Linked DNA regions of Homo sapiens: regions 2, 3 and 4 are each linked to region 1. Evidence: fine-mapped expression QTL. A gene starts in region 1. Each other region holds a variant in brackets. All regions are shown on one strand. Distances are between the middles of the regions.

Evidence for each region.
Region 2: its variant is fine-mapped to the expression of MYBPH in whole blood (TOPMed, PIP above 0.99).
Region 3: its variant is fine-mapped to the expression of MYBPH in whole blood (TOPMed, PIP above 0.99).
Region 4: its variant is fine-mapped to the expression of MYBPH in fibroblasts (GTEx, PIP above 0.99). The same link has a PIP of 0.9 or more in whole blood.

The regions. Positions count from the first base shown.
Region 1 is chr1:203,171,510-203,178,931 of GRCh38, reverse strand. MYBPH (myosin binding protein H) reads left to right here and starts at 3,106. Exons shown (of 11, transcript NM_004997.3): 1 at 3,106-3,381; 2 at 3,471-3,605; 3 at 4,335-4,502; 4 at 6,892-6,980; 5 at 7,354-7,422. The coding sequence starts at 3,177. CHI3L1 (chitinase 3 like 1) reads left to right here. Exons shown (of 10, transcript NM_001276.4): 10 at 1. RefSeq lists enhancers at 325-1,524, 4,442-4,971.
Region 2 is chr1:203,212,120-203,219,541 of GRCh38, reverse strand. It overlaps CHIT1 (chitinase 1), which reads left to right. Exons shown (of 11, transcript NM_003465.3): 9 at 213-326; 10 at 1,677-1,803; 11 at 2,409-3,463. The coding sequence ends at 2,653. It overlaps LOC124904485 (a long non-coding RNA gene), which reads left to right and starts at 6,055. Exons shown (of 2, transcript XR_007066797.1): 1 at 6,055-6,389; 2 at 6,497-6,719. RefSeq lists enhancers at 1,942-2,697, 2,698-3,453, 3,454-4,210. The variant G/C (reference allele first, on the strand shown) is at 2,004.
Region 3 is chr1:203,117,205-203,124,626 of GRCh38, reverse strand. No RefSeq gene overlaps it. Among named protein-coding and RNA genes, the nearest start is that of ADORA1, 6.8 kb to the left of the region's middle. The variant G/A (reference allele first, on the strand shown) is at 2,779.
Region 4 is chr1:203,196,432-203,203,853 of GRCh38, reverse strand. No RefSeq gene overlaps it. Among named protein-coding and RNA genes, the nearest start is that of CHI3L1, 13 kb to the right of the region's middle. The variant T/C (reference allele first, on the strand shown) is at 3,591.

The sequences.
Region 1 (7,422 bases):
GTGTTGGCGCTTTGCTTTGGTCTATCTTTGAGCGCCCACTAGACCCACTGGACTCACCTCCCCCATCTCTTCTGGGTTCCTTCCTCTGAGCCTTGGGACCCCTGAGCTTGCAGAGATGAGGCCGCCATGTCCTCTGCCTAGCCGCAGAGAGCCCCAGTGGGAGGCCAGCGTCCTCAGATTCACCTGCCTTGGACTTAACCCAAGCATGGCTGATGGCCTTCCAAATATTAAAGTCATTGCCATCCAGATTTCTAAATTAAATTCCCTGTTGAAAGAAACGTTTTCTGTTTCCTGAAGGCTAGCAGGCCCTGGGAAAGAAGGCTTTTCATCCCAACACTCCCTCTCTTCTGATCCACAGGAAGGTGGTGGGAGCTCATCACAGGACCAGGTTAGAAAGCCCTGAACCCTGGACCCTCAGGGCCAGCAGGAAATGCAGATGTCATCTCATGCACCCTTCCTGCCTCTCGGGACTGGAGTCCCTGCAGAGTGCTTGAGAGATGGCCCTCCAGCCTCCCAGTGAGGGGCAGCCGATTACCTTGGAAGCAACCCATTCCGTGGCTGGGCTGAAATCTGTCAATAGTCCTAGTGCTGGGCTTAGCCCTTTGTTCTGTTCACCCCTCCCCTAACACTCATCCCTCCACCCATTCAGAGATCAAAGTACCTCTGCTCAAGCTGGCCTGAGATAGGAGGTCGGGAGGATGTGATGGGGTGACTCAGAAGAATAGACAGATTTTCAGCCTTTATGAGGTGGAGACGCTCTCATCAGGCTTCTGTTGAATTCCCAGGGCCCCAGGAATGCCTTTATCCAAAAAGGCTCCAGATACTCACCCCAGAACTAAAGAGAATTGATTTGTGGATTCTCTGATGTTTGGATTATCTGTGACTTAGGATAATCACAAATTGGCCTGATGGTTTGTGACGCCGGTTTGAAGTGGAGGGAAGGAGGAAATATCTGAAATCTGAACCAGCTGGAGCTGGGCAGATGCTACTGATCCCAAGGTCACAGCCCTGCTGAAGGCGAAGAAAACAAGGACTCGGCAAGGCGTGGAGTGGGGTGTGGGGAGGGGGTACCCGGCATTTCACCTCTGGCTGGTGGGGCCAAGTATTCCCTAATCCCTGCCACTGCCCACCCCACCACACAGGCATCTTTGAAACCCCAGGGCTGCAAGCCCTTGTGGGCAGCCAACTGCCCTCCCCTGGGGCCACCCTTCCCCCAGCCGGGGACAGGCTCTCCAGGGCTGACTCAGTGTCCTGTGGGGTTAGTCACATTCACTTATAGCTGCAGAGTCAGAGGCCAAGGATGGAGATCCAGTCTCCAGGACCCACTCCCTGCCTGGCAAGACGTGGAGTCACCTAGCAGAGGGCGAGGGCATCCAGGGAGGGCCAGATCCAGAGGCTCCCAGGCCCTGCACTGCCACTCCCCAGCAGAGACAGCAGGGTTGAGAGGCAGCCACACCCTGGTGTCCCCAGTCCTCAGGAAAGGGAAGAGCATGCATGCTGCTGAGGGCCCTGAATAAATCACTTTTACTTATTTTTAAATTGTGAGCACATCTTACGTGCTAAAGAGTGCATAAATGTATTTGTTTAATTTGAAGAATAACTATGTAGTAAGAACCTGTGTAACCACCACCCAGGTCAGGAAAGGAAACCTCATTAGCACCCCTGCAGCCCTCACGATCACAGATATCCCTGTTCCTCCACCTAGAGGCAATCGCCATCCTAACTTTTGTACTGGCCTCATCTTCCTTTCTGGCCTTACCGCCTACGGATGTACCTTGAAGAAGGGAGCCTGGTGTTGACTGCATTTGGATTTAATGTAGATGAGACAGATGAGACGCAACATTTCTGTGTGCCTTGCTCTTCTGCTCATCACTGGGTCTGTGAGTAGCTGAAGTTGCTCATTTGACCCCATATTTTGCTTTACAGTTGCATAAACACTCCACAGTTATTTATCCATCCCACTGTTGAGGGACAGCTGTTTTCCCCCACATTTCAACAATTACAAATAACATTGCCATGAACCTTCTTCTCCATGTCTCCTGGGGCATGTGTGGGTGTTATATGAGCGGCACGGCTGGGTCACGGAGTAGGCACCTCATCCATTTTACTAGGCACTAGTAAAACTCTCACATTTTCCAGAGTGACTGCTCCAATACCAGCAATAAAAGTTCTTAATGTTCTCCCTCCTTCCTGACACATGGCATTTTCTGGCTTTCCAGTGATTCCCAGTCTTAACATTTTATCGAACAAATGAATCAATGACTAGAAATCTGGCCATATCTGCCTCCTTTGGCACACTGAGAAAGCCCATGCCCACAGCCTGCTTGGAAGAGTCTAGAAGCTTCAGAGTGCTCTCCTCCACTAGGGCATCTTCCAGATCTGCCTACAACTGCAACCCATCCCGAAGGGCGAGGGGTTCTCTGTAACAGGTGGAAAACTGAGGCCCACAGCAGGCATCAGGGGAGACGAGCTCCTTACCAGCCGCCCAACTGAGACAGGAGCCAGGAGACTTAGTGCCCCTTCCTGGGGTTCCAATGCTGGAGGACCATCCTCTGAGCAGCTCCACCCTCAGCATCTCAATTCCCTCCCTCTCTAGGGCCCTCAGCCTCATACAGCACAGGCGAGAGTCCCTGGGAACTGTGGGAGCCCAGGGAATGTGGACCCCAGAGGCAAAGCTGGGAGTGCTCACAAGGACGATTGTCCCAAACTGTCAGGGCCCCAGCACCCAGTCTGAGAAGCTCTGGGAACAAGTGGCCCCATAGACGCCAGACACACAGAGCCTGAGCTGGGCTCATTCTCCAGATAGAAGTTCTTCCTCCTATTGCCCTGACACCTGGCACGCGGCCTGCTCGATGTCCCATCTCACCCATCTGCGCCCTCCCCCAGCTGGGCACCAGCACCCTGGCTGTTGAAGGCCAGTCGGGGAGATGGATGAGGAAGTGACTCCTCAAGGGGCCCTTGTGGTTCCTCCCCCAGAGCTATTCCTGGCCTGGGCGCCTCTCCACCCTCCAGTCCTCCTGCTTGACCTGACCCCACAGCTGGGAATCGTTTGCTGGGGGTGGGGCAGCCCCTGACTATATAAGCCTGGACCTAGGTGTCCCAGGCACCCTAGAGGCCCAGGCCCCCCAACGGCTGACCCCTGCACACTCCACCCTGGCCCCCCAGCCAGTCCAGCAATGATGGAAAAAAACACCTCCGAGGGCCCTGCCTGCAGTCCAGAGGAGACCGCATCTGAATCTGCCAAGGTGCCCACAGCAGAGCCTCCCGGAGAAGTGGCAGTATCAGAGTCCACCAGAGAAGAGCAGGTGCCCAAGCCGCAGGCCCCTGCCCCACAGGCCCCTACAGCCTCCACAGCCACTAAGCCTGCACCCCCAAGTGAAGGTGACTGAAGGTGGGGCAGGGGGAGGAGGGAGGCAGGCATGTCAGGGGTGGAGGGGAGCTCTTGGCCATGAACCTCTTCATCTCCCCAGATGTCCCCAGTGCCCCACTGCTGCTGACCCTGGATGATGTGAGCAGCAGCTCTGTGACTGTGAGCTGGGAGCCCCCAGAGAGGCTGGGGAGGCTGGGCCTCCAGGGCTATGTGCTGGAGCTCTGCAGAGAGGGAGGTGAGTGCTGGGCTAAGTCTTGCATACACCCAGGGGAGGTTGTCATGGAGGGCTGCAGGGACAAGTGCACAGGCCCTGTGGTTGGTCAGTCTGGGAGAGATACAGAAGGAGGGGATGCGAGCAGTAGGCTCCTCAACCCACCCACCTGCCCTTTCTTGCTCCACCAGCAGGAGAGCAAGAAAGGGTAGGTGGGTGGGTTGAGGGGCTCCCTTGTCCTCAGCTCCAAGGAGCTTCTGAGTAAGGGAAGGGTAAGGGGACACTGGGTTCTCCTTTGGTGAGAAGGGAAGGAAGTGCTAAGTCTCAGAGGACCCCGAACTGTAGGAAGTGGAAAGGGAGGAGCTGGAGAGGGGAATGTTAGCGTAAGAGACAGTGAGGAGAAAGCGGGAATGGGGTGGGGGTGTGGGGGCCACATCCCTGCTGCCACTGTCCCCCTCCATGGCCCAAGTCCAGCCTGGCCTCTGCCTCTGCCCCTACCTTGCTGTGTGACTTTGCAAATGTGTCCAACCCTCTCTGGGCTTCAACAACCTCATCTCTAGCCACAATTTCAGGGCTCTAACATCAGGTGTCTTTGATGCCATTTGACAAGAAGTCAGGGAAGGCAAACAAGGGGAAAATGAGGCCCAGAGAGGGAGGCTGATTTCCCCAGATCACCAGCAGGAAAAGAAGCCCCATGGAGAGGGGCGCCTGTGGCCACATTGCAAAGACCTCACACTCTCTCCATCCCCTCAGCCTCGGAGTGGGTGCCTGTGAGTGCCCGGCCCATGATGGTGACCCAGCAGACTGTGCGGAACCTGGCTCTGGGAGACAAGTTCCTCCTGCGCGTGTCTGCAGTGAGTTCTGCAGGGGCTGGCCCGCCGGCCATGCTGGACCAGCCCATCCACATCCGAGAGAACATTGGTAAAGCCCATCCTGGCCTTCAGCTACCCAGCCCTTCCCAAACACCTTATCTAATGGAGAAACTGAGGCCAGCAGGTAGAGGGAACCAGGCAGTCATTTCCCCCGTCCCACGCTCACATGCACAAGCCACACGCTATCACCATCTTGCCTTAAGAAAGTTCCAGGTTCCTCAGCAGTAAGGGGCCTCTGGAGGTCTAAGAAGCCATTTCCCTGAGTGGTCCAGCCCCCACGCCTTGAGAAAGGGGCTCAGAAACAAAAGGTCAAGTTCCCTGGGTCACCTGCTCAATGCTAAGAGTCCATCTGTTCTATCTCCCATCTAATCTCAATCTCTCCAGTGGCCATAAATGCTCATTTTCTGCCCATTTCCTGTGGCCTGGGTTCCAGATTCTCTCAAAGGTCTTGAAACAGAGAGAAGGCGCTGCTTGCCCCTTGTTCCACCATGGCCCTAGTGGAAAGAAAAAGAAGGTCTGCAAAAGGCCCATGAAGACTTCTCCATTGCAGAGGGCATACCTCACTGGGGCCCCGCAGGCCAGCTGCCATCCCCATTGCTAATATTTCTATTTGCAAGGTGCATTAGCCTCAATCCTCCCCTCGCTCCCCTCCCGGAGCTGATCGGGTTTCAGTCTGTTAATGACAGTGAGTCATTTGGTCTGATCTGAGGTCTCTGGGGACAGCACAGTCCCCCAGGGTGAGGAGAGACACAGGCAGGCAGGTGGCCTGAAGCCTTCTCCACCTTCCTTCTTGCTCCTCCACTAGGGGATGGATGATTTCTGGTAGCTCTAGACAAGGCCTCCAGAAGGAGAGGGGATCCACAGGAGGGGTCAAGTCTGGATTCGAAAGGAAATGCTCAGCTCTGAGGCCTGAGAGACATGGGAACCATGGGGTTAGGGAGCTTAGATTCATAGATTATCAAGGCCCAAGGAGATCCCAAGGAGCCCAGGGCATCCCTTGAGGTCACCCAGCCTTTTATTGGCAGTCCCAGAGTCTGATGCCTACACAGGACCACTCATGTCCCACTGCACTGCAGAGCATCTTCTCTGGTGGCACCCAAAACCCAAGCCTCCCAACCCTAATTCCCAGCCTTTGGCTCTAGGTGAGATGTGGCCCCACCAGGCAGCTGCATTATGGCTGTGTCGACCCTAGTCCTGGAGGTGCCAGGAAGGCTTCTTGGTTGGGACGGTGCTGGGCCTTCCCCAGGGAACCAGGGAGCTCAGACTCTGAGAGGCCCCTGAGGCCCAGCATTGATGGACCCAGCCAGACTCAGCACCCACTTCTCCATTCAAATTCCTCTGGCAGGAGAGAAGGGGATTTCCTGGAGAGAAGAGGGAGAGGAGGCTGTGAACAAGTGGGGAACAGCCAGGCTTATCACAGGGCAGAGTGGGGGCCCTGTCCAGGATCCTTGGCTGCTCAGCTGTCTCTCCTTGGCCACCTGGAGCTGCCAAGCATTCTTGACCCCCTGCAGCTGTCCCTAGAGCATTCCATGCCTGAGCTCCCAGAGCCAAGTGCCCACTCAGCTAATCCTCAGAGACACCGTGTTCCTTCTCACTGTCTTGTCCTCCTCCGCCCTGCATGCCACCAACCAACTGCTGCCACCTGTTTGCTGCTGAGGAGCCTCAGTCATGGACCCAGCACCCACCCCAGGGGACAGGGATGGTGGCCACTGCAGCTTCCCTTAGAATGCCCAGGGGCTTCAGTGGTTGCCCCTGACCAGATGAGGGTCAGAATGTCATTCCTTAGCATAGCAGGCAGCTGAAATAGGACTTCAAGAAGGACTTCCCGGCTCTGAGACTAACAGATTTTGGGAGGGTGACAGAGGAAGAAGGGGGGATACCCGCCCTGGCTTCACTTGGGAAGAGAAAGATCCTAAACCTTTCAATAGGGCCTGGAGACAGAGGAATGGACAAACAGGGTTTCACAAAGGCTTCTCTGAAAGTCCTGGGCTTGTGGAGAGCTGGGGATATTAGAGCAGGAAGACGGCAGTGGCCTCCCCTTCCTAGAAGTGCAGCCTGACAGGTGCAGCACCTGCTCCCCAGCAGGGGGAGACAGAGAGTCAGCTGGGGCCCATCTGGTGCTTGGGAATGCCTGGGCTGCAGGACAAATCCCATCCTGGCAGAGTCGAGGCGCCAAGGGAGTGCCCAGGATGCTTACCAGTTCACACCATGGAGGCGCTGACCTCCTGAAACCTCCTGCTCCCTTAAGGGATTTGGGCCCCTAGACCTCAGGAGTGAGAGCTTCACCCTTCCTGCAAGGAGGGACCCCATGGCAGCCAGGCACACCCAGGACCCTCCTCCCAGCCAGCATCCCTCACCAGCTGTCCCCTGCCCCATCTCAGAAACCCCAATCAGCCACCCCACTGCACTGCTAAGCCCAGACTCTTGCTTTGATCCAGAGGCCCCCAAGATCCGTGTCCCCCGCCACCTCCGTCAGACCTACATCCGCCAGGTGGGAGAGACGGTCAACCTGCAAATCCCCTTCCAGGTGGGTATTACCCCCACCAAGGGTAACAGCCTGGGTGGGAACCAGGGCCCCCATTTAAGGGGAGCCTGGGAGATGGCAGGGTCTCCAAGGGTCCAGCTGAGACCCAGCGAGACGGCTTCATCCTTCCGCAATCATGCACATGACTCATTGGTGATTCTCAGCCTGTGGATGGGCAGGTGGGCCCCCAGAGCGGGATGGACACCTGGAAGATGTGGCTGTGGGCAGCACCTGTGGCTCCAGCCTCTGCTGCCCCTCCTGAGAAGGGCCAGTGGGACAGGCTTCCCCGAGAACAGCTCCAGAGACTCCTGGAGTTAAGGAGGTGTGGGGACTCTGGCACCTCCCTACACTCACCCTGGGGGCTCCTCCCTGCCAGGGGAAGCCTAAGCCTCAGGCCACATGGACCCACAACGGCCATGCCCTGGACAGCCAGCGGGTGAGCATG
Region 2 (7,422 bases), 41 kb before region 1:
AATTCCATCTCATCCATGCCATCTTGAATTTATCCTTAAGCCCAGGTGCCTCAAGCTGAGTCCAGAATTCTAGGTCACTGCAAAGAACCTCCTGATTCTCCAGGCTTCCTCAGACAGGAATTTTCCAATCTCTAGTCTCCTCCTGGTGAGGAAGGGAAGGTGCCTGCAAGAGCCTCCCTCCTCCTCCCCAGTGCTGCCTTCTGCTCCCACAGGTCTGCTCCTGGAAGGGGGCCACCAAACAGAGAATCCAGGATCAGAAGGTGCCCTACATCTTCCGGGACAACCAGTGGGTGGGCTTTGATGATGTGGAGAGCTTCAAAACCAAGGTGAGGCCCAGCTCTGCTGGCAGAGGGGTGGTCCTAGTGAACAAGTCCTGTCAATGACATGGAATGAGGACAGTTCAGGACCTCAAGGGTGAGTCTCCTTTAAATGTCCCAACATTTCATAAATCTCCACGTGATAGTATTTTGTACCTTTACTACCTATTGACTCAGAAAAGACAAAATGACAAAAAATTGCTCTACATTTAGTAGCACTCTGGAAAGTATTTCTATTTTATTAAATACCATACAAATTCTACAGACATATGAAGAGGAGAAATACACATGGTGAGACATATAGCTTTCTTCAGCCCATTGGCAATATCTGGTGCATGTCCAAATTACAGACCTTTTGCTTTACTTATAGGACCCCCTTCTCCTGCCCAATATTGGTGCATTTACCTGGTTTCATGCCATTTTCCCCTGTGAAACTGTTAGCTCCTGAAGACGGATGCTTCACTAGTTTATCTGTACATCCCACATCAACTATCATGTGTGGCTGACAGCGGCAGCTTCTAGAGGTGGACAATTGCAGGGGGGCACGATCCTGGCTGGGGAGATGGGAGAAGGGGTCACGGTGGAAGGGTATTTCAGATAAGTCCTAAAGCATAGAAGGTGGCCATTCTTAGGGGTGAGGGAGCGGGCAACTGCACAAGCAAAGACGCGGGTGCAGAGAAAGTAAAGGCTGGACTCTGAAAACAAAGTGTAGGCCCACATAGCTGGACCCCCAAGCAGGGCAGGTAGAGGAAGGGAGCTAGCTGAAAGGGAGGCTGGGGCCAGCAAGGGATCAAGCACCATGGCCCCCTGGCAGGGTTAGAGGACAGAGAATCCCACTCTGAGGGAACACACAGTCATACCCTCAGGAAGCCTCAGGAATCTGGTGGAGGGAAGATGGCTCTCAGGGAAGACAAAGACATGAAGACAGAGAAGCAAGCCTTGATTGAGATCTTTTGGAAATCTGAGTTGTTCCCTATGGTAACTGGACTTACCTTGACCTTGACCTTGACCAGCATACAATACCCTTAAATAAAGCAGCTCAGCCCACACATGACCAAGCGGTGAAGGGTTCCCACTTAGGGAGGTGCACACAACTGACACTATTCCTCCCGACTGCACCCACCCCACCCCAGGTCATGCTTACGTTAAGACAAGGAGACTGCAAAATGACTGATGTCCAAGCAGCATGAGGACTCAGCATCCAGGCTCCCAGCCCAAGGCTGTCTCCAGAATCTACAGCCACTCACAGGCCTGAGGCTGCTGGAGCAAAAAGGGCCCTGTCCAGAAGAGGTAGCCAGGCTCTGGGGTGGCCGGGTCAGGCTTCCCCGGGCTCCTCCACTGCATCCCCTCCCTGCACAGGTCAGCTATCTGAAGCAGAAGGGACTGGGCGGGGCCATGGTCTGGGCACTGGACTTAGATGACTTTGCCGGCTTCTCCTGCAACCAGGGCCGATACCCCCTCATCCAGACGCTACGGCAGGAACTGAGTAAGTAAGGGGCCCAGGGCCAGTGGTGGAATTTGGAGGTGGGGTACAAACACAGCTCCATGCATCCAATGAACTGTAGGTCCCGGGTCCTTCTGAGGAAATGACTTTGCCCCAATACTGTAATTTCCCAAGCTTCATGTACCCGCAGGAGCTAAGGAAACTGTCAAAACAATTTTCCTTTTTGCGGTCTTTCTCTTCCT[G/C]GTTGTAGCAATGCCTGCCCAGGGTTGTTGTAACCGTGGCTTCCCTCCAGAGGGCCCCCAGACTGGGAGCAGCACCTTGTTCCTCTCTTACCTGGGAGAAAGCCTCCCCTTAGCCTGCAGCGTGGCACCCCCACCTGCCCTCAGCAGTATATGGTTGTGCTTGCAGATGGGTAAAGCCTTAACTGCCTGTCACATGTGAGGCCAGGTGTTGCCTGTGGCACTGTGCTTCAGCTGTAGGTATGGCTGTTGTCTGGCTGTTCTCTGCCTGGGGTATCTGGCTGTACTCAGCCTGTAGGGCATGTGGTGCTGGGCTGCTGCCAGCCAATGGTTGCTGCCTGTGTGCTCTGCCTGTGGGTTTGGGATCTCTTCGGGGGAGCCTTGGTTGAATCTTCACTGTCTTCCCAGGTCTTCCATACTTGCCTTCAGGCACCCCAGAGCTTGAAGTTCCAAAACCAGGTCAGCCCTCTGAACCTGAGCATGGCCCCAGCCCTGGACAAGACACGTTCTGCCAGGGCAAAGCTGATGGGCTCTATCCCAATCCTCGGGAACGGTCCAGCTTCTACAGCTGTGCAGCGGGGCGGCTGTTCCAGCAAAGCTGCCCGACAGGCCTGGTGTTCAGCAACTCCTGCAAATGCTGCACCTGGAATTGAGTCGCTAAAGCCCCTCCAGTCCCAGCTTTGAGGCTGGGCCCAGGATCACTCTACAGCCTGCCTCCTGGGTTTTCCCTGGGGGCCGCAATCTGGCTCCTGCAGGCCTTTCTGTGGTCTTCCTTTATCCAGGCTTTCTGCTCTCAGCCTTGCCTTCCTTTTTTCTGGGTCTCCTGGGCTGCCCCTTTCACTTGCAAAATAAATCTTTGGTTTGTGCCCCTCTTCCCAAAGATGTGGTGACTTAAGAGGCTCTCTAAGCACACTGTTGACTCCAAAACATCCGCAGGTCAGAGCCAGGTGGGAAGGTGGTCCGTGCAGGATGTGCCAGGCCCTGTGGCAGGTCTTGCCCCATGAGTCCATATGCCAGTGGGCAGTTTCCAGTACACAGGTGATGGCAGCCAGAGCGCGGCCCCAAGTGCAACACGTTCTTTGGTTATTGGCTCAGAAGCCTGGAAACAGGAGCTTCTGCGGACCTTCACGCACGTGTTATTCCCAAAATGCCACTAGATGGCAGCAGAGAAGAACTTTTCCCTGATTTAAGCGCTCTGCGAGCAGCCACTCAGCATTACACTAAGAATTCAGACCCCTGGTACTCAGGGGTCTTCGAGATAAATCCTGTTTGGGCCCTTTGCAGGCCCTATCTCACCTACTGCCCCCGTTCACCAGATGAAGAAGGAACAATGATTATTCTCACTTTATAGGCATTTAAACTGAAGACTGATTCTAACCAATTCTGAGTCCAGAACCAAGGCCTGAAATGGGCCAGAGAGCATGCACACGGTGTCCTGGTTAAATAAAGTCATCCCAACATTCCTGGCTGCTTTGGGCTGCACCTTGGTCATTCTGTTTGAAGAAAATCTGCACAAAGCCTAATGGTCCAGCCTGTTATTCACTCCAAGCTGGTTTCTGGTTGGGACTTGGGAAGGCAGCTGGGGACTGGGACAGGTGAGATGAGGGGGAGGCAGCTTGGCCCCCCATGTGAGTCAACCCAGCACCAGAGCGCAGGAACAGTGTCCCCGTCACTCCGGCAGCCTGCCTGTCCATGGGCATTTTGAAACCTGCTCTCCTCAGTCCAGAGCACAAGCTGCTTGAGCACGTGCTCCGCCCCCTGAGGTCTCAATTGAGGGATACACCAACCACATCCCAACGAGCTGTTAGGAGTGGAGTCCAGGTGCAGGGGTGACTTCTGGCGTGCTGCACTCCAGCTGTGTGACTTCAGGCAAAGAAGCAGAGCCTCAGTCCTCTGCTGTAGGATGGAAGAAATGTGAGGAGTCAGTGAAGTCGTGCACGCCTGCCCTATGATCAGTGCTCATTCCCTCCCTCCCTCTTCCCTTCTCAGCCCTTTCTTCAACTTCTGTGAGCTGGGTTTGTCAAGGATTTAGCAAAAACTGTAGTCTCCTTTTAGCAGAATGCGCCCTCCTACAAGCATCCAAATAACCAAAGTCCTCCCTGAGTACGCAGTCTTACACCTGCACTACTGTTACCCTCAGGAAAGCATTAGCCACAGCCTCTCTCTGGTCTTCACATCCACCCTGCTCCTCTACAAACTCATGGCCACTCCCTCAGCTAGAACCAGCATCATCTCATATCTGGACCCACCTTCTATCTGGCCTCCCTGCTTCCTGCCCACCCCCTCTTCCAGTCAGCCACCACATCGCAACCAGTTTAATCTTTCTAAAATAGAGATCTAAGCCTGTCAGTTCCCCTGCTTAAAAACTAAGCAAGGGAAGTGACAGGCTTCCCCTGCCCAAAGGAGAAAGTCCCCACCCATCAGCACAGGGTTGAGACACTTTATCAGGCCCTCGTGTCTTCTCCGGTCACTTCTCCTGCCGTCCCCACCCCAGTTCAGTTGCTGGGTACCCCTGATGTCAGCATTAACCTCAACCATCATGCCAGCTCCTCATGTGGGACTCCCACAGCCCTCTGTCACCCGGCTAGCTCAGGCCCACGCCATTTTCTGAATGAATCCTGTCTAGGACAGAAACAATGAGAGTTCTCGAAAAGCTATTTGTGTTCAGATTATCTCTTTTTGTTTGTTTTTGTTTTGTTTTGTTTTTTGTTTGTTTGTTTGGTTTTTGTTTTTTGGGTTTTGGTTTTTTTCTTTTTTTTTGAGACAGAGTCTCGCTCTGTTGCCCAGGTTGGAGTGCAGTGGCGTGATCTCGGCTTACTACAACCTCCACCTCCTGGGCTCAAGCGATTCTCCTGCTTCAGCCTCCCGAGGAGCTGGGACTACAGGCACCTGCCACCACACCAGGCTAATTTTTGTATTTTTAGTAGAGACGGGGTTGCTGTTGTTTGCTTGAGACAAGGTCTCTCTCTGTCACCCAGGCTGGAGTGCAGAGGCACGATCACAGCTCACTGCAGCCTTGACCTCCTGGGCTCAGCTGATCCTCCCACCTCAGCCTCCCAGGTAGCTGGGACTACAGGTACACACCACCATGCCCTGCTAAATTTTGTATTTTATGTAGAGGCAGGGTTTTGTCATGTTACACAGGCTGGTCTCCAACTCCTGGGCTCAAGTGATCCTCCTGCCTTGGCCTCCCAAACTGTTGGGATTACAGGTGTAAGCCATTGTTCCCAGCCAGATTGTCTCCTTTGACTCCACCTTGGCCTTGAAGCCCCATGTGGCTGGAGTCTTCCTGCTGCTGCTGAGTTTCTCAGCACACACCAAGTGTCCATGCAGGCCTGGTGTCCAGCTGGACACAGCAGGGACAAGAGCCGGGGCTTTACTTTCCTGAGGCTAACATTCTGTTGGGGGAGGCAGACAGTGAACAAACGTGCACATAAGACCTTTCCAGGCAATAATGAGTGCTGAAAGGAAACAAGATATGGCTAGAGAGTGAAGGATGGCGGTGAGGGGACTGCTGTGCACAGTGTGGTCACAGAAGGCTCAGTAGAGGCCACATTTGAGATGAGATCCCAAGTCAAAGGAAGATTTGCCCATGCACTTTTGAGATCCACAGTCCTCAGGGGTAAATCTGGGTGCAATTCTTCCCTGGCTGCCTTTGTTAACCCAGCTTATAGGACATGGTCCTGCCTTGGTCCCCTCTTCTAAATGTCCCCAAGAGGCCCTGCCTTGGCCCCATTTCTCCCCTGGCACAGGTGCCTCGTGTAGGCCCTTAGTCTGATGGCGGTGATCATGGCCCCATGGACAAGTCCTCCAGAGCAATGACTGCTCCCCTATCCTTTATGTCAACTGTCACCTCAATCCCCACTTGCCTGGTGGCCTTTTAGTTAATACCGACTGAGGTTAGGGCTCCCGGCCACTGCCCCAACCTGTGGACTGTACCTTCAGAGTCAACCTTTGGTGACTGCCCCAGCCTCTGTCATGCCCTTATGCCCAGTGCATGGTCCACGTGCATGGTCCAGTACAACATCCTCCCTCTCCTCTGCCCCAGGTTGCTGCTAGGAAAGCACCCTTGGTGTCCCATATCCAGTGTGGTGACCTGTATCCCAGGGGACCATCGGGAGTCTCCAAACAAGCCATGCCTTCCTCCAGCGCATCTCCACCTGTGCTTCACTTCTGCCTGTGCCATCCCTCCTTTCCCCACCGGGCCACTGCCAGTCACCCTGAGACAGTCAGCTCCTGGGTTACTCTTGCAGGAAACATCCTCGGGTGCCCTGGACATCAGTGACTGCCTCCCTGCCACACTAGACCACTGGGCCACCACACTGACATATGCTGCCACCGTGATCTGTGTGGATGTTAGACTCCTCCCCTAGGTTCCGAGCTCCTAAGGTCAAGCACAATGTCTTAAGTGGTCCTCTCCAATCATGACACATGTTTGAGGCTCAGTAAATATTGAACCATGTAATTTCTGACTTTTTTTCTTCTTTTACCCTCAGGTGCAGAAATCACTTAGAGGATTTCCAGACTGAAGTGCTATTTCATGACAAGAGCACTACTCTCCCAAGCCCTTCTATTGAATACCACTGACTCTTTTAATATTAGTGTCCAGCCATTAGTCCTTCCTTCAAAGAGACAGGGGAATTAACATTCGTTGCATGACCAGAGACCATACTAAGCATGTATTAGACATCCAATAAATAGTTACTGAATGAATAGTAAGTGAATTAACCTGTGTCGTTTAATCCTCACGGTACCCCTGCAAAGGACGTGTCATTTTCTGTTTCCCTTGGGTTACACAAGCAGTATGTGGCAAAGCTGCAATTAATTAGCTGATTAATTAATTATTGAGACAGAGTCACTCTGTCACCCAGGCTGGAGTGCAGTGGTGCAATCTTGGCTCACTGCAGCCTCCGTCTCCTGGGTTCAAGTGATTCTCGTCCCTCAGCCTCCCAAGTAGCTGGGATTAAAGGCGCATGTCACCACACCCAGCTAAATTTTTTGGTATTTTTAGTAGAGATGGGGTTTCACTATGTTGGCCAGGCTGGTCTCGAACTCCTGACCTCAAGTGATCTGCCCACCTCAGCTTCCCAAAGTGCTGGGATTACAGGCGTGAGCCACCACGCCTGGCCTAAAACTGCAATTTAGATGCCAGTCTAGATGAGACCCAGAGCCCAGGTTTGCTTTCTAGAACACTGCTGTCTTTCCTCCCCCAGGTTAAAATCATATGTATTTCTTTTATCTCCTTACCCTGCTATTTGGTGTCTAGACCTCAGAGGTTATGAGTATTGGGCACTTCTTCTGTGTCCAGCCATACACTAATATTCAGGTCCATTTATCTCTGCTGTCAATCCCATGGGATCACAGGTGCAGAAACCACGGTGTCCAAGTCAAGCCGGCAGTGGAGTCAGGGCCTGACCCAGGC
Region 3 (7,422 bases), 54 kb after region 1:
GGAGTACTGGCTGTTAAGGCTTGGCTCAGCCCTGTGGGGAGAGCTTGGGGATTGGAGGGGGTTTCAGAATTTTTCTCTGTCCTTTCCAGCAGGCAGAAGGATATTTTGGTCCCTGTCTTGTTTTTTCAGCATTGCTCTGGCCAGTGTGTGCACAAGGAGGAGAACTGTTGGATAAGAGCAGGCATTTGGGACAAAAAGATTTCTGGGTGTCAGGAAAGCCCTTAGCCCTTCCCCCAAGGGGCCCATAACCATGCCTGTCTGCCCCTGCAGTGACTTCCTGGAAGTTCCCTTCCTCTCCTTTTCTACCACCCTCCTTCTGCTCAGATTTGCACCCTGGGTCTCTGCCTCCTTCTCCCTCCCTCCTTCCAGCTCACTTCTTCCCAGTCAGGGCTTCTCTGTGCCAGATACTGGGCCCACGGGAAGAACACAGGCTGCGTGTTTCCCTGTGTGTTTGTGAGGCGGTGGGGAGGCATGGGGTAGGTCAAGGCCATCTAGTTCCCGTTCCTCCAGACAGCATGGAACTGTTCCTACCTCCTAAAGCAAGGTTGTCCTTCGCATTTCTTTCCTAATCTCATCATCATTCATTCATTTATTCTGTTGGGTAAACATTTCTTGAGCCCCTTTTGTGTATCAGACAGTGAGCTGAGCATCGTGGGTAGAGGCATAAAAAAGCCATAGTCTCTCCTGCAGGCTCCAGAGAGAGTTCACACTCAGGTAAGGAAGGCATGAAGGGCCCCAATACACAATCCCTCCAGTGAGAATCAGAACATGTTTCCTGGGTCTTGATACACTGAGGACCCCTTAGGGCTCCACAGAGGAGCCTCGGGACCTCCAAGGCTGGGAAGGAGGGTCAGGTCTTGGGGGCTCAGGGAGCCACCCTGTTTTAGATGAAGCAGCTCTGGTTATTTCATGTATGGGTTCCTGGTATAAGACTTTCTTTGAACATTGTGGCTCTTAAAAAAAAAACAAGTGAACATCTGAGCTTCAATCCAACCTCTCCAGATAAGGAAACTGAGACCCAGAGAAGGAATGAACTTAGCCATACCCATCCAGCAGTGAGGGGCAGGGCTTGGTACCCAGGAGGGTCCTGGAGGTGAGCATCATTTTGAGCCCTGGTCCCACCTACCCTTCAGGGAATCCCTTGAGAATCCCTCAAGCATCAGCCCTTTAATCTTAGAACTTGATGAAGTGAGGGTTCTGGGCTTTCACACCCTCGCCACCTTACAGCAGAGGGAGGCAGTGTTAGGTGGACACACCTGTATATAATTATAAAAGCCCCTCACGGGTGCACAAAAGTTTAGTGTTTATAAAAGAATTCCCTTCAAGCTCATTCTTCTTGGTATAATAAAAATACAGAAATTCTCACAGACAGTATCCCATTGAATGCTCACTATACACCAGGGAGATAGCAAAGCAGGTGTTATTAGTCCCTGGTCACAGATGAGAGAGGTTCAAGGGAAGCCACATGGCAGAGCTAACACTAGAACCTGGACCGTCCGAGGACTGAGCCAGGTTTGATGTGTGGCTTTTTGTTTGTTTGTTTGATTGTTTTGTTTTGTTTGTTTGAGACAGAGTCTCACTCTGCCACCCAAGGTGGAGTGCAGTGACGCGATCTCAGCTCACTGCAACCTCTGCCTCCTGAGTTCAAGTGATTCTCCTGCCTCAGCCTCCCAAGTAGCTGGGATTACAGGCGCCTGCCACCATGTCCAGCTAATTTTTGCATTTTTAGGAAAGAAGGGTTTTCACCATGTTGGTCAGGCTGGTCTCAAACTGCTAACCTCGTGATCTGCCCGCCTCGGCCTCCCAAAGTGCTGGGATTACAGGTGTGAGCCACTGCACCCAGCCGTGTGATGCATTTTACCCATGAAGGTGTATGTGACGCTCGGGAGGTGATTGGAACTGCTGGGCCAATTGGTCTGAAAGGGCCTCCTCAAGGAGGAGAATCTTGGGCAGCCCCATCCACCATTTGTTTCTTTGGCATTTGTGAAGGGCCTATTATGAAGACACCCCCCAAGAGCTGCAAGCATGGGGACTGGAGGCCCGGCTGTGTCAATCCCTGCTCAGAATCAGCTGGAGCTCCTGGTGGTGTGTTCCAGGGGTCCCAGACAAGGGAGGAGCATACTCCCTTGCTGGCAGGGGCTGGGAAGGATTCTGGAGAAAGCAACACATAGCCTGGGCCTTGAAGGAGGCACCGGATGCTTTGTGCTTGCAGAGATGGGCTAGTGGCCTGGAGGAGGACTTTGTGGGCAGAAAGTGAATGAGCAGCCTGAGCAAGGGGCATGGGAAACTGCCCAGTGTGTTCTGGGCAAGACCAGGGGCTAAGCAGGGGCACTGGATCCAGGCTGGGCAGCAGGGTGACAACTAGGGGCTACATTGCTGAGGTCCCCAGGGCAGACTGAGAGGACTGTAGTGGGCGATGCACCCACTGAAAGGCCTCACCCACAGAAGGCCTCAGCCCCAGTCCCAGATCTGCTCTGTAGCACTGGGTGAAGCCTGACCACTCCCCATACCTCCCTGAGCCTCAGTTCTCTTATCCATAAAAGAAGAAGAATAACATTACCTCTTTGACTTTATGTGAAAGTGCTTTTTAGATTGTAGATCACTACACAAATATACAGTCTACTCTGTTGATAATGGGAAGCTTTTGAGGATTTTTGAGGATTTTCTGAAGGACCTGAAAGATGCTATAGGAAGATCATCCAAGACGCTGTGCAGAGGGGAGGAGGAGAGGGTGAGAGCAGGCAGAACTGCCAGGAAGCAATCATGGTCAAAGATGAC[G/A]AAAAGTTAAACCTAAGAGGAAGCAGTGGGAACAGAGATGAAGATGGACAGGAAAGATGTCTCGTGGGAGGACTTCCGGGCATAGTGGCTGGGGGACTGAGGAGGCAAAGATGACTCTATTTCAAGCTGAGTTCCCAGGGAAATGCTGAGGAGGATGAGGGAGATTTGACGGACAGGCTGGTTGGGGGGATGGGGGATGGGATACGAAGTCCACTCCTGGACAGGTTGGGCTGGCTGTGCCCATGGGAGGGGTCCAGCAGCCTTCTGGAAATGGCCAAAGGGTGATCGGAGCTGGAGCTGGGTCATCGCAATGGAGGTGACAGTCAAGGCCCTGGGAGAGATGAGGCCACCCAGGAGAGGATGCAGAGAATAGGCTGTGGAGAAGCTGGGCTGTGCCCACAGTAATCAAGAGGGAGGGCAGCCAAAGGGGAGGAGCAGGCTACCAGACATTTCAGGAAGCAGGGGTGCTGAGTGGTTCGGGGCTGAGGGCTGAAGGGCAGCTATGATAGGTCTGAGGGGGATGTGGTGGATTTCATGAAAAGAAGGGTGTGGAGACCTCAAAGAAGCTTCAGGGGATGGGGGAGTAGGAGTGCCTCTCAAAGGTTGACGCTGCAGCAGGTAAGCAAGGTAGAGGCCGTGGGTGCAGATGAGTCTAGTTTGAAAGAACTTGGCAGGGATGAGAACAAAAGATGGATGGTGAGCTGCAGGAGAGAGGGGTCAAAAAGAGGTTGGTTTTAGATGGGGAGCTCTGAGCATGCTTACAGTCTGAGGGAGGGAAGCAGTGGCAAGGAAGAGATGAATCAGAGGGAAACGAAGCTGAGCACAGACCCCAAGGAGCTAAGCAGTTAATGACAGCTGGCTGGGCACAGAGCTCTGGATGTCCCCAGACCTGGAAGTATCTAGCTCTTCACCAGCTCCAAGCCCTCCCCCACTGCCACTGGGTCCTAAGGAGAGGCTCCCAGGTCTTCAACCCCAACCCAGCCCTTCCCTGAAGCCCCTCCACCCCCCCACCTGACACAAGGCCAGCAGTTGGCCAGCCATGCTGCAGCTCCATTAAAGACTCAGCCTTCTCCCAGCACCAGCTCCTCTTCATCTGACAGCCTGTGGCCCAGCCCCTACCCCTAACCCTAGCCCACGGGGCACCAGTCACAGATTTCTTGGCTTCTCTGCCCCTGTCTGCGGCCAAAGAGGTGCCTCTGGGCAATCCGCCTGCCACCCCACCACTGTCTGGGAGATCCACCATGTGACTCATAAGCGCTCATGCTGTCCTGTGCAGCCCACCCCATCCCAGCCAGCAAATGCACCCCACCTTCCTGGACTCCTCCGACAGCACCTCCAAGGGTTCAAAGGCAAGCAATCCTCTGTTTCCCCTCCCCTCACTAGGCAGAAGGGGAAATTGAGGCAGGGGAGATGATGATATCTGTTGGAGGTGAGGCAGCCTGGTATCTGACTCCCTAATCGCTCCCTTATTCCTCCCCACCCATCAAGAGGTGTCCTTGTCCCTCAAGAAAGACAAATACCCCCACTATCTTCTATATGTTCCAAAAGGGAGAAGAAGGCTGTCAAGACTAGAGAAAAGAAGGAAGGAGGGGCAGAAGTGAAGCTGCCAGACTAAATTCAGGACACCCAATTAAAAACTTTTAACAGCTTTATTGAGATACAATTTACATAATATAAAGTTCACCCATTTAAGGTGCACAATTCAGTGGTTTGAGTTACTTATGGAATTGTACAACCATCACCATCATTTAATTTTAGAACATTTTCATCACCTTTCCTCCAAAAAAACTTTGCACCCATCAGTAGTCACTTCCCAACCCTTCCCTCCACCACCCATCCCTAGCAACCACTAATTTACTTTCTGCCTCCATGGATTTGCCTATTCAGGACATTTCATATAAATGGAATCATATGATACATAGGATACATGGTCCTTTGTGACTGGCTTCTTTCACTTACCATAATGTTTTCAAGGTTCATCTGAACTGTGGCATGTATCCATACTTCATTCCTTTTTAAGGCTGAATAGTATTCCATCCTGTGGACAAGCCACATTTTGTTTATCCGTTCTTCAGTTGATGGACATTTAGCTTGTTTCCACTTTTAGGTTATTGTGAATAATGCTGCTATGAACATTCGTGTACATGTTTTTTTATTTTATTTTTTTTTTGAGACGAAGTTTCACTCTTGTTGCCTAGGCTAGAGTGCAATGGTGTGATCTCGGCTCACTGCAACCTCCGCCTCCCAGGTTCAAGCGATTCTCCTGCCTGAGCCTCCTGAGTAGCTGGGATTACAGGTGTGAGCCACCACACCTGGCTAATTTTTTGTATTTCTAGTAGAGACGGGGTTTCACGATGTTGGCCAGCCTGGCCTCAAACTCCTGACCTCAGGTGATCCACCCACCTCAGCCTTCCAAAGTGCTGGGATTACAGGCGTGAGCCACCACACCTGGCCCACGTACAGGTTTTTGTGTGAGGATGTGTTTTCATTTTTCTAGGGTAGATACAGACAGAAGAAAAGGCAGAACACATGTCTGGCCCTTTCTCACATTTATCCCCTGTATCATCACCCCACCTGGGTGGGAAGCTATTATGCTCCCCTTTGCCAGATTAAAACACTGAGGCTCAAGGAGAGGCCTGAAACCACTGAGTGCTGGAGCTGAAACGTGAGCTCAGGCCTCCTGATTTCCACTCCAAGGTTCTTTCCAGTTCATCACAATAGCCCACTCAGAGAGTCTGCAGCCCACTGAGGGAACGAAACAGAAGGAACTGAAAAGCAACATCTTCCACGTGAACCATCACCTCATCCTTCTGAAGTCCTAACTAGGTGCTTCATGGACCATGTCCTGGGGTGTAAGGGCTGAGACTGAAGCCAGAGGCTTCATGGAAGGAACGAGTTTTTGCTCCACTCAGTAAAAAGCTAACTGGGATGAAATGGCCCCTGTCCTCAGCCAGTATCCCTGGGTCCCCTGAGAGCCTGCAGGAGAGCCCACCATGTACACATTCTCATAGTTATTTCTCTGAGTGAAGCCCCTCCCAGCAGCGATGGAAGCCAGGTGTGGAAACACTAGGCATTCACTCATTATACTCAGGAATCAGAACTGGTCACAGAGGCTTGGCCACTGATTCCGGCTTCAGCCCATTCCCTCAGCTCCAGTCTTATCCTGGCCCCAACTCCCTGATGTTAAGCAGAACTCAAAGTGCTAGTCTAGAATCATTCCCTTCAGATCTGCCTCACCCCCTCTGCCCTGAACCCTGTCACCAGCGAGCACTGGGCATGGAAGGAAGGGAATTTGCGCTAAGTGCACGTTCCTCAGGTCGGGATAAAGAGGTAGTGGATGGCCTGGGCTCCCTGGTCCTCTGTGGGCTCATCCCAAAGTCCTACCTTCCACACCAGAAAAGCAAACAGCAGCTTGCTAGAGGGGTCCACTCTACAGTTAAAAGCCACTCACTCCATCTGGCTCGTCAAGTGGGGTGGGAGACACAGAGGAGCCCTTCACTTACTGAGCTTTTCTATTTCAATCACTATCCCCGGCCCGAGTTGGACAGACTTCATCCAGGGCTTAAAATAGCTCCCGGGGCATAGAGCTCAAGAAACATTGACTGAATGTTCAATGTTCAAAATAATACACTTCAAGAGTACAAGAAGGAAGTCTCACAACGCTTTATGGTTTAGAATTATTTAACTATCATAGCATTGCCGGTGAAATAAGTATAATCATTTTCCCATTTCTCAGAGGAGGAAACTGAGGCTGGGGGGAGGGAGGTGGGGAAGGTGGATCGGCTGAGCAGCGGGATCTAGAGCCAGAAGCAGCCGCCCAGCTCAGGGCTGTTGTCCGGGGCTCGGGGTCCCCCTGCTGGCCTAACGGAAGCCTGGGCGTGGGCGAGGAGCTGGGCAGGGCCAGACCCCAGTCCCGCAGCCTGAGTTCCCTGCTCCGCCGCGCTAGGTGCTGGGTTCCCGCGGAAGGGAGAAGAAGGAGGAGCCATAGCTGGGCTCAGCATTATAGCGCCTGGCGGAGCACTGCGCAAGGCTTCAGCTGAGATGCTTCACCCGACATCATGGGCCAGAACAGACGAAACAGGCAGCGCCTCAGCTCCCCACCTGCCCGAGCCTCTCCTGAGCTCACCTGCAGAAAGGCCAAAAGGGACGGCGCCTAAGAAGGCCCAGCAGACCCGCTCCCTTGGAGGGAAGAGACAGATTCGCTCTCCTGACGTCCAGTCCAAAGTGCTTTGTTCCCATAGCATTGTCTCCTCCCGTTTCCAGGCAAATCTAACCCAGCCCCAAGAGAACACTTCCCTCCTCTCTGGATCTTGTTGCCCAGGCTGGAATGCAATGGCGTGGTCTTGGCTCACTGCAACCTTCGCCTCCCGGGTTCAAGCGATTCTCCTGCCTCAGCCTCCCAAATAACTGGTATTACAGGTGCCTGCCACCACGCCTAGCTAATGTTCTATTTTTGGTAGAGACGGGGTTTCACCACGTTGGCCAGGCTGGTCTTGAACTCCTGACCTAAGGTGATCCACCCGCCTCGGCCTCCCAAAGTGCTGGGGTTACAGGCGTGAGTCACCGGGCCCGGGCTTCCAGCTCCTTTACTTTCACCCCACTTCATCTGGCTGCTCTACAATTCCCACAGTGAGGAGGGCTAAC
Region 4 (7,422 bases), 25 kb before region 1:
CTCTCTCACATCACTCCAAATTGTTTATTATCATGGCACTTACTGCTGCGCGGTGTTTTTTGTTTTGTTTTGTTTTTTGTTTGTTTGTTTGTTTGCTGTTGACTATCCGTCTTTCTGAGCTAGAAGAGAAACTCCATGTGACCAGGACTTTATCAGCCTTGTTTGTTACTATATCTCCGGAATCTAATACTACTTCTGGCAAATAGTAGATGCTTAATATGTGTTTGTTGAATGAACGAGTGAATAAATGAACTGCTCTCTATCCCCTTTATAGACTCTGCTCCTAGCTGTTAGTGGTACTTTTTTGTACAGAACCAACAAATCAATCCCTAGGTTGCATTTCCCATATCAATCAGCTCAAATTCTCCTTCTACAATTCTAATCAAAACTCATCCATTCCACAAGCATGTCCAAGCTCTTGGCTGAGACTGTGGATGAAGATAAATGAGATTTGACTCCAGATTCAAGGCCTGAGCTTCTGGAGTTTATAGAGTCTAGAAGAGAGGGGATAAGGCATGCCCACAAAGTATTATAATTCAAGATTAAATGAGTCATAAACAATTAAAAAAGAACAAATTAAATATGTTCAGAGGAAATTTCCTCTGGTTGGATGATCTGTGGGGACCCTAACGTAAAGAAACAACAGAACTGAGATCGAGTTTTGAATGAGGGTTCAGACCTCACTGCAGTCTCAGGCAGTCAGCCATGAGACTCAGAGCCATGACCTCAGATTGAGGGCCAGGGTGTGTCCAGACTGGACCAGGCACGCGAAGACCCGGGAGGCAGGAGGGGATAAGGATGGAGAGAGGCTGAGGCCAAACGGTCCAGGTTTGTGGACTGCACATAGCCATGGGAGAGAGCGAACTGAGTGGGCACCATGACCCAGGCAGCAATGTAAACCAGCAGCCCAGCCGCTGCACTTGCAGCTGACAGGAGGGAAGGGGGTTCGTGCAGGACCCTCACCCACAAACCCAGGGGGTTAACCAAGTTTCTGTCTAAGAAGTTCAGCAGGGCAGATTTCTCTCCTTTCTTAGTAATGTGAAATGTAAGCTGGTCAACAGGCATGATTTCTCAACAGCAGGAAATGAAGCAACTGTTTTGGAGACAGCATCCCTCCCTGATGGAGGGCAAGGCTTCAGGCTGTGGTCATTTTCCTGTCAAGTTAATCCTAGTTGTAGAAAACACATCTCCTGAGAAGGCTGGCCTGTCAGGGAAGGGGTGGAGACCTGGAGGCCTGGGGTAGGAATGGGAATGAGGAATGAGCAGGGCTCCATGTTGTTACTCATGAGCGGTAGGGGCTCTGCTGGAAGAAGATCGGGCAGTGTGGAGAAACTGGAGGCGGACTAGGAGGTGGGGTGGGAGGCTGGCGGCGAGCGGAAGGGAAGGATGGGCAACAAGCTTCAAGGGGACTTGGAGGTCTCAGGGAAGGATGCCAGACCTGGAATAGTTCCCAGCCTCTGCCTCTTTTCTTTTTTATTTTTCGACAGAATCTTGCTCTGTCGCCCAGGCTGCAGTGCAGTGGCGAAATCTCGGCTCACTGCAATCTCTGCCTCCCAGGTTCAAGCGATTCTCCTGCCTCAGCCTCCCAAGTAGCTGGGATTACAGGCACCGACCACCATACCCAGCTAATTTTTGTATTTTTAATAGAGACGGGGTTTCACCATGTTGGCCAGGATGGTCTTGATCTCTTGATGTCGTGATTTGCCTGCCTTGGCCTCCCAAAGTGCCAGGATTACAGGCATGAGCCACCGCGCCTGGCCCTCTGCAACTTTTCTCTCCATCTTTCTGAGGCCCATGGCCCCTCCCAGACTCAGTCATAGCCCTAGCTTCTGGGACCTGGGACCACAGTCATTTCTTCTAGTTCCTTCTCCTGGGCCCATCTTTACCATATTATATTGTAAGTATTGGCTCAACAACTGCCTTCTACATAGACCCTGGGCCCATTGAGGGCAAGGGCCCTGTCCCCCTCCTCTGCTGGCCCTAGCACCTGGCAGACTGGGGCTGAACCTGCAGGGCCTGTGGATGTCGGGCTGAATGATATAGTTGCCGTTGTACCTTCTGGGTCTCTTCCACCACCTGATCTCTAAATGTCAGGATGCCTCAGGGCTCAGGCATGGGCTTCTGCCCTTCTTGCTCTACGTGAACTCATCCGTTCCCATGGCTTTAAATAGCATCTTGACACCAATGACTGTATCCGCAGCCTAGACCTCTCCTCCAAGCTCCAGATGCATGTATCCACCAGCCCGCTTGCTCTCTCTACCCAGATAAGGCATAAACAGTTCTTTAATATGGCTGAGACAGACCCCCTACTCTAAAACTTATCTCCACCCCATGAATTCCTCACATTAAACAATTAGCACAACCTTGTCCACCTTGCTAAAGGTAGGACCCCCTGGGTGGTTCCTGGTCCCTCTATTCCCTCATCCTTTTACATCCAACTCATCTGTAAGTGTGCGGATGTTCCCTCCAAGGAATGTCCATAGTCCACCCTTCTTTCCACCTCCACGTCCCCAGCCCAGGGCAGGCCACCGCATCTCTTGCCTGGACCTCTTTAACAGCTGCTTATGTTCATGCCTCTTCCACTCTTGCCATACCACAAATCTATTCCCTACAGAGCCACTAGAGTGACTTTCCAAAACATAAACTCTATCCTGGACTACCTGCTTAAACATCCAGTGGTGTCCCATTGCACAGAGGACAAAACCCCTCTGTGGTTTCCACAGGCCCCAGGACACAGACCTGCCTCTCTCCCCGGGGCCTCTTGTCTCTCCCCACATCCCCAAACTACTCTAGCCAGCTGGTCAGCTTGCTTGTGCTTTTCTCTTTTTTTTTTTCCAACACACTAAGCTCTTTCTCACCTCCAGGACTTTGCATATGGTGTTCTCTGCCTGGATCATTTTCTCTCTTCTTGAGGTAGCTGACTCCCTCTCATCCCTCAGATTTCTGCTTAAGATCACCTCCTCGGAGAAGCCTCCCTGACTGTCCTAACTAAAGGAGGTTCCACTCCTCACTCTCCCCACCCTAGCCCAGGACTTGGCACCTAATAGGGGCTCAGTAACTCTTTCCTGAAAGAATGAACACATGCTGCCCTTAGTCCCTGGCAGACTCCTGTGAGCTCTTTAGTTTATCCTTCTAAGCCACCAAAGATTCACTCTCCTTTCCGCTTATTTTTACGTTTTCTCAAAACTTTCCTCATAAACACCATATTGTTGAGTTTCTTTCTCTCCCTAAAATAGCTGCAGAACTGGACAAAGACTGGCTATCTGCTTCCTAGCTGTCCCTTTCAGTTTCAGGGTTTATGTGCTAGTCATTGCAGGGGAGCAGTGGGGAGAATGGAAAATTACCAACAAGGAGAAGTGGCAGAATCCAGGGACTGACCGTGTTCTTACACCCGTGGTCCTCAGTCTATAGTTAGCTTCTGACTTCCTTTCTTGGCAAGATCTATACCAGCTATCTAGGACAGTCCCAGTTTCAACTGTTCTGTCCTATTGTCCCACTGTGTTTCATGAATTTTCTTACAATATTGGCTCTCTCTCTTTTTCCTCCCACTCTCCTTTTATCCCATGAGGGCAGCCTTACTTAAACAACCC[T/C]CGCACTCAGTGTTGAAAGAGCTGAATTCAGTTCAAGTCTTGCTCAACCACATAAAATGTGCACGACTTTGGGCAAAGCACTGATCCTCTCTCAGCTTCCGTTTGCTCACCTACTGAGAGGGATAAGGCCAACACCTCCATTCCAGCATTCGGCAGGGCGGGTTGTGACTGGAATAGCATGTGTTGGGCACTTGGCACCCATAGCAAGTCTCCCTTGCCCCTCAGGATGAATAATGGAGTGAATTAGTCTTTCAGCCAAAAGACTCTGGGCTCCAGAGAGTAATGTAATGCTTTACCCAAACAGTGGAAGTGTGGAAGTGATGTGGATGTTGGGGGACTGTTATATTCTCTCGGTTCAGCTGTGGCCTGAGTGATGAGTCAGGTCATGTCTGTAGATAGAGAGCTCTGTCTCCACAAAGAGGAGGTGCCCAGCTCCAATCCCTGGGGAAAGGTTGTATCTTTATTGGAAACCAGAGCTCAGAAGACTAGCCTTAGGGAGATGGAAGAGGGCCCCGACTTGGGAGCAGGGGTGCATCTTTCAACAGGGGTCCCTAAACAGATGGCGCCCTCCGTATGGAATCAGGAGTCGAGCATAGCTTGAACGTCTGACTGTCCAGGACCCACCTCAAAGCGTGCACTTCCCCTGCCTCACCCTCAAGCCTCCCCTGAGTCTTATCTGAATGCCTTGGCTCAGGCTCTGCTTTTCAGGGGGAGGACTGTGCCACCTCCTGGGCCAGAGTGTTAAGGGGTGACCAGTGCCCCTGAGACCACCTTGGCTACAACCTCTCAAGGGAAATGTGCATCTTGGTGAATCCGAGGGACAGGGTAGGGATCATGCAATCCAGCTGCTTCTTTCTCCCCACCAGGGAGGTCTTCATCCAGTGCCAACCTGGGTAGGTCTGCCTCGAGCATGTTTTTATTGAGGAGCTGGCACTTTCTTTCAAATGTCAGGGGCATTGAAGACCACGCAGGTTTCACCTCCTCCAGGCCCTTGCCTAGCAGGAGAAAGGTCACTTTCAGGCATGTCCTCACACTCCCTGCACTCAGGTTTGCCTTGGGCCATGCCTGGTCAAAGGAAGCCTAGAGACTGGGCTCCAGTACAGGCTCTGTATTTAGCAGCCAAGTGACTTGGAAAGGTCACCTGCTCTCTGCTTCCTCATTGTCAATGGAGAAAACAATCTCTGTATTAGTTTTCTGTGGCCGCTATAACTAATTACCACAAATTATAATGGCTTAAGACAGCACATATTTAATGTCTTACAGTTTTTTGAGGTTACAAGCCTAAAATAAGTTTGATAAAGCTAAAATCAAGATGTCCACAGGGCTGTGTTCCTTCTGGAGTCTCCAGAGCAGAATCTATTTCCCTGCCTTTCTAACCTTCTAGAAGCTGCCCGCATCCCTTGGCTCGTGGCTCCTTCCTTCATCTTCAGAGCACATCACTCCTACCTCTGCTGCCCTTGTCACATCCCCTTTTCTGTGTCTGACCCTCCATCATCCGCTCATAAGGACCTCTGTGATTATATTGGGCCCACCCAGATAATCCAAAATAACCTCCCCAACTAAGACTCTTAACTTAGATACATCTTCAAAGTCTCTTTTGCCATGTGTGGTTACATGTTTCCAGGCTCTGGGGTCTAAGACATGGACATCTTTGGGGAGCCATTATTCTCTCTACCACAGCCTCCTTACCACATAAGCTGTTCTCAAATCGCATCCATCTCCAGGCTTCAGGAAGGACCTTCTCATCTCATCGCAGGCCAAAGGGCCCGGTCGCCTAAGGATGAGGCCTGGTCCCCTAAGTACTCCTAAGGATGGAGAGTCTGAAGATAGCTTTATTTGCCTGTTTTCTTTGAAACAGGGTCTTGCTCTCTCACCCAGGCTGGAGTGCAATGGCAAGATCTCAGCTCACTGCAACCTCTGCCTCCTGGGTTCAAGGGGTTCTTCTGCCTCAGTCTCCCAAATAGCTGGGATTACAGGTGCATGCCACCACACCTGAGTCTTTTTAGTAGAGACGGGGTTTCACCATGTTGGCTAGGCTGGTCTCGAACTCCTGACCTCAGGTGATCTGCCTGCCTTGGCCTCCCAAAATGCTGGGATTATAGGCATGAGCCACCACGCCCAGGCTAGTTGCCTGTTTTAATGTTGAAGGCTCTTAAAGGGAGTTATAACTGCTATCTGACCCATCTCCATTCTGGCAAAAGGGATCCATGTAGCTCTGCTGTATGCGTTTTCCAAATTCAGTGTTTAGTGGGGGAGCCACAGGATCATCTCAACTGCAGAGGGTGGAAATCTCATGGGAGAGCCAGAAATGAAGGTGGGGTTGGAGAAGGAGAACCGGCCTCCTCAGAGCATCTGCTCCGTGCCAGACCCTCACATGCATACCTCACTGAATTCTTACCACAATCCTGTGAGGAGCTGAGGCTCAAGGGGGCTGAGTCATGCTAAAAAGGTCAGCAAGTGGCAGAGCTGAATGGGGGTTGGGGACTTTTTCTGATTCTACCACAGCACCACGTGGGGTTGGGGTCACCTGGGCTCTGGCTTTGTACATTGCCAGTGTTTCTTTTCTCCTGGCATCAAAAACAACTCCAAGGAGAGGATGGTTGTTTATGGTGAACAGGGCTATTTAGAGAGGTTAGAGGTGTACATTTGTAGATGACATTTAGAATGTATGGAGAAGGAGTGTGTGTGTGTGTGTGTGTGTGTGTGTGTTTCACTAACCTCCACTTACTTCTGGATACTGAAGGGAGAGGAGAAGGAGGATCATCCAGTGGATTGGAGTTTAAGATTGTCAACAAGACATCACTAAGAACACCTTTTGCATGCCCTATGGATAAGTGCAAAGCATCCCTCAAAACAGTGGTTTCAAATCACAATCACCATCCAGAGAGATGTGTTAGAGACCTGGGTCCTTGGGTGTGAGAGATCTGTTGAGAGAGTCAGGCCCTTACCCAAGCATGGCTATGGGGAAGTCCAGCAGAAAGAGACACAAACCCTGCCCTCAGGAGGCACCAGATCTGAAAAGAAAAGGAGACGAGAGCCCCTACCTTCAGGGAGATCCTAAAGTGTGTGGCAGATGGAAAAGAGATAGTCCTGCCTTCAGGGAGCTTCCAGTCTGAGAGGTAAGATGAGACACATGGGCACTAAAACACCACCATAGACACAGGTGTTCCCCAAGCTCACAGACCCAGTGGTTGTAAGAACACAGTCAGAGGATAGAGCAATTAGATGTGAGCCTGTGAAAGAGGGAAGGTTCCAGAAGATGAGTCTGGAATAGAAAGAGGAATCACTGAAGTGAGGAGTGGGCACCAGAATGGGGAGTACACTGTGAAGGCAGAAGCAAGCCGGTCAATCCCTGGGATGGGGGACACCCAGATCGGCTTGAGTGGCCATCACTTCTTTAACAAGATGGGCCAAAACCAGGGTCCAGAAAATAAATACACACATGGCTGCTCCAGGCACCTTCAGAGGGGTGAAGACTGCTGGCCCCGACTTCTAGAGTGGTTCCTTACCCTGCTTTCACTCCCAGTCCCCTGCCCATGGGTGTCGTGTGCCAGAAAGCACAGACCCTGGGAGCCACTGCTCCCTTACAGGAGAGGCCGCCTGAACACAGCTGTCCCACATCCAGGCAGAAATGGTGCACAGCGCCACATTCCACCCTGTCTGCTAACCAGGAAACTGATTTCAGGCTGGCTAAGGGGACCCTTGTACATCACTTTTCTATTATCTTCATGTGGCTTCTCCAGAGAGACCAGGTTTTCATGGGCCTATGAGGGACTGTCAACTTCAGTTCAGTTTAGTTTAACAAATGTGTGTTGAGCATTGCTGACACTCT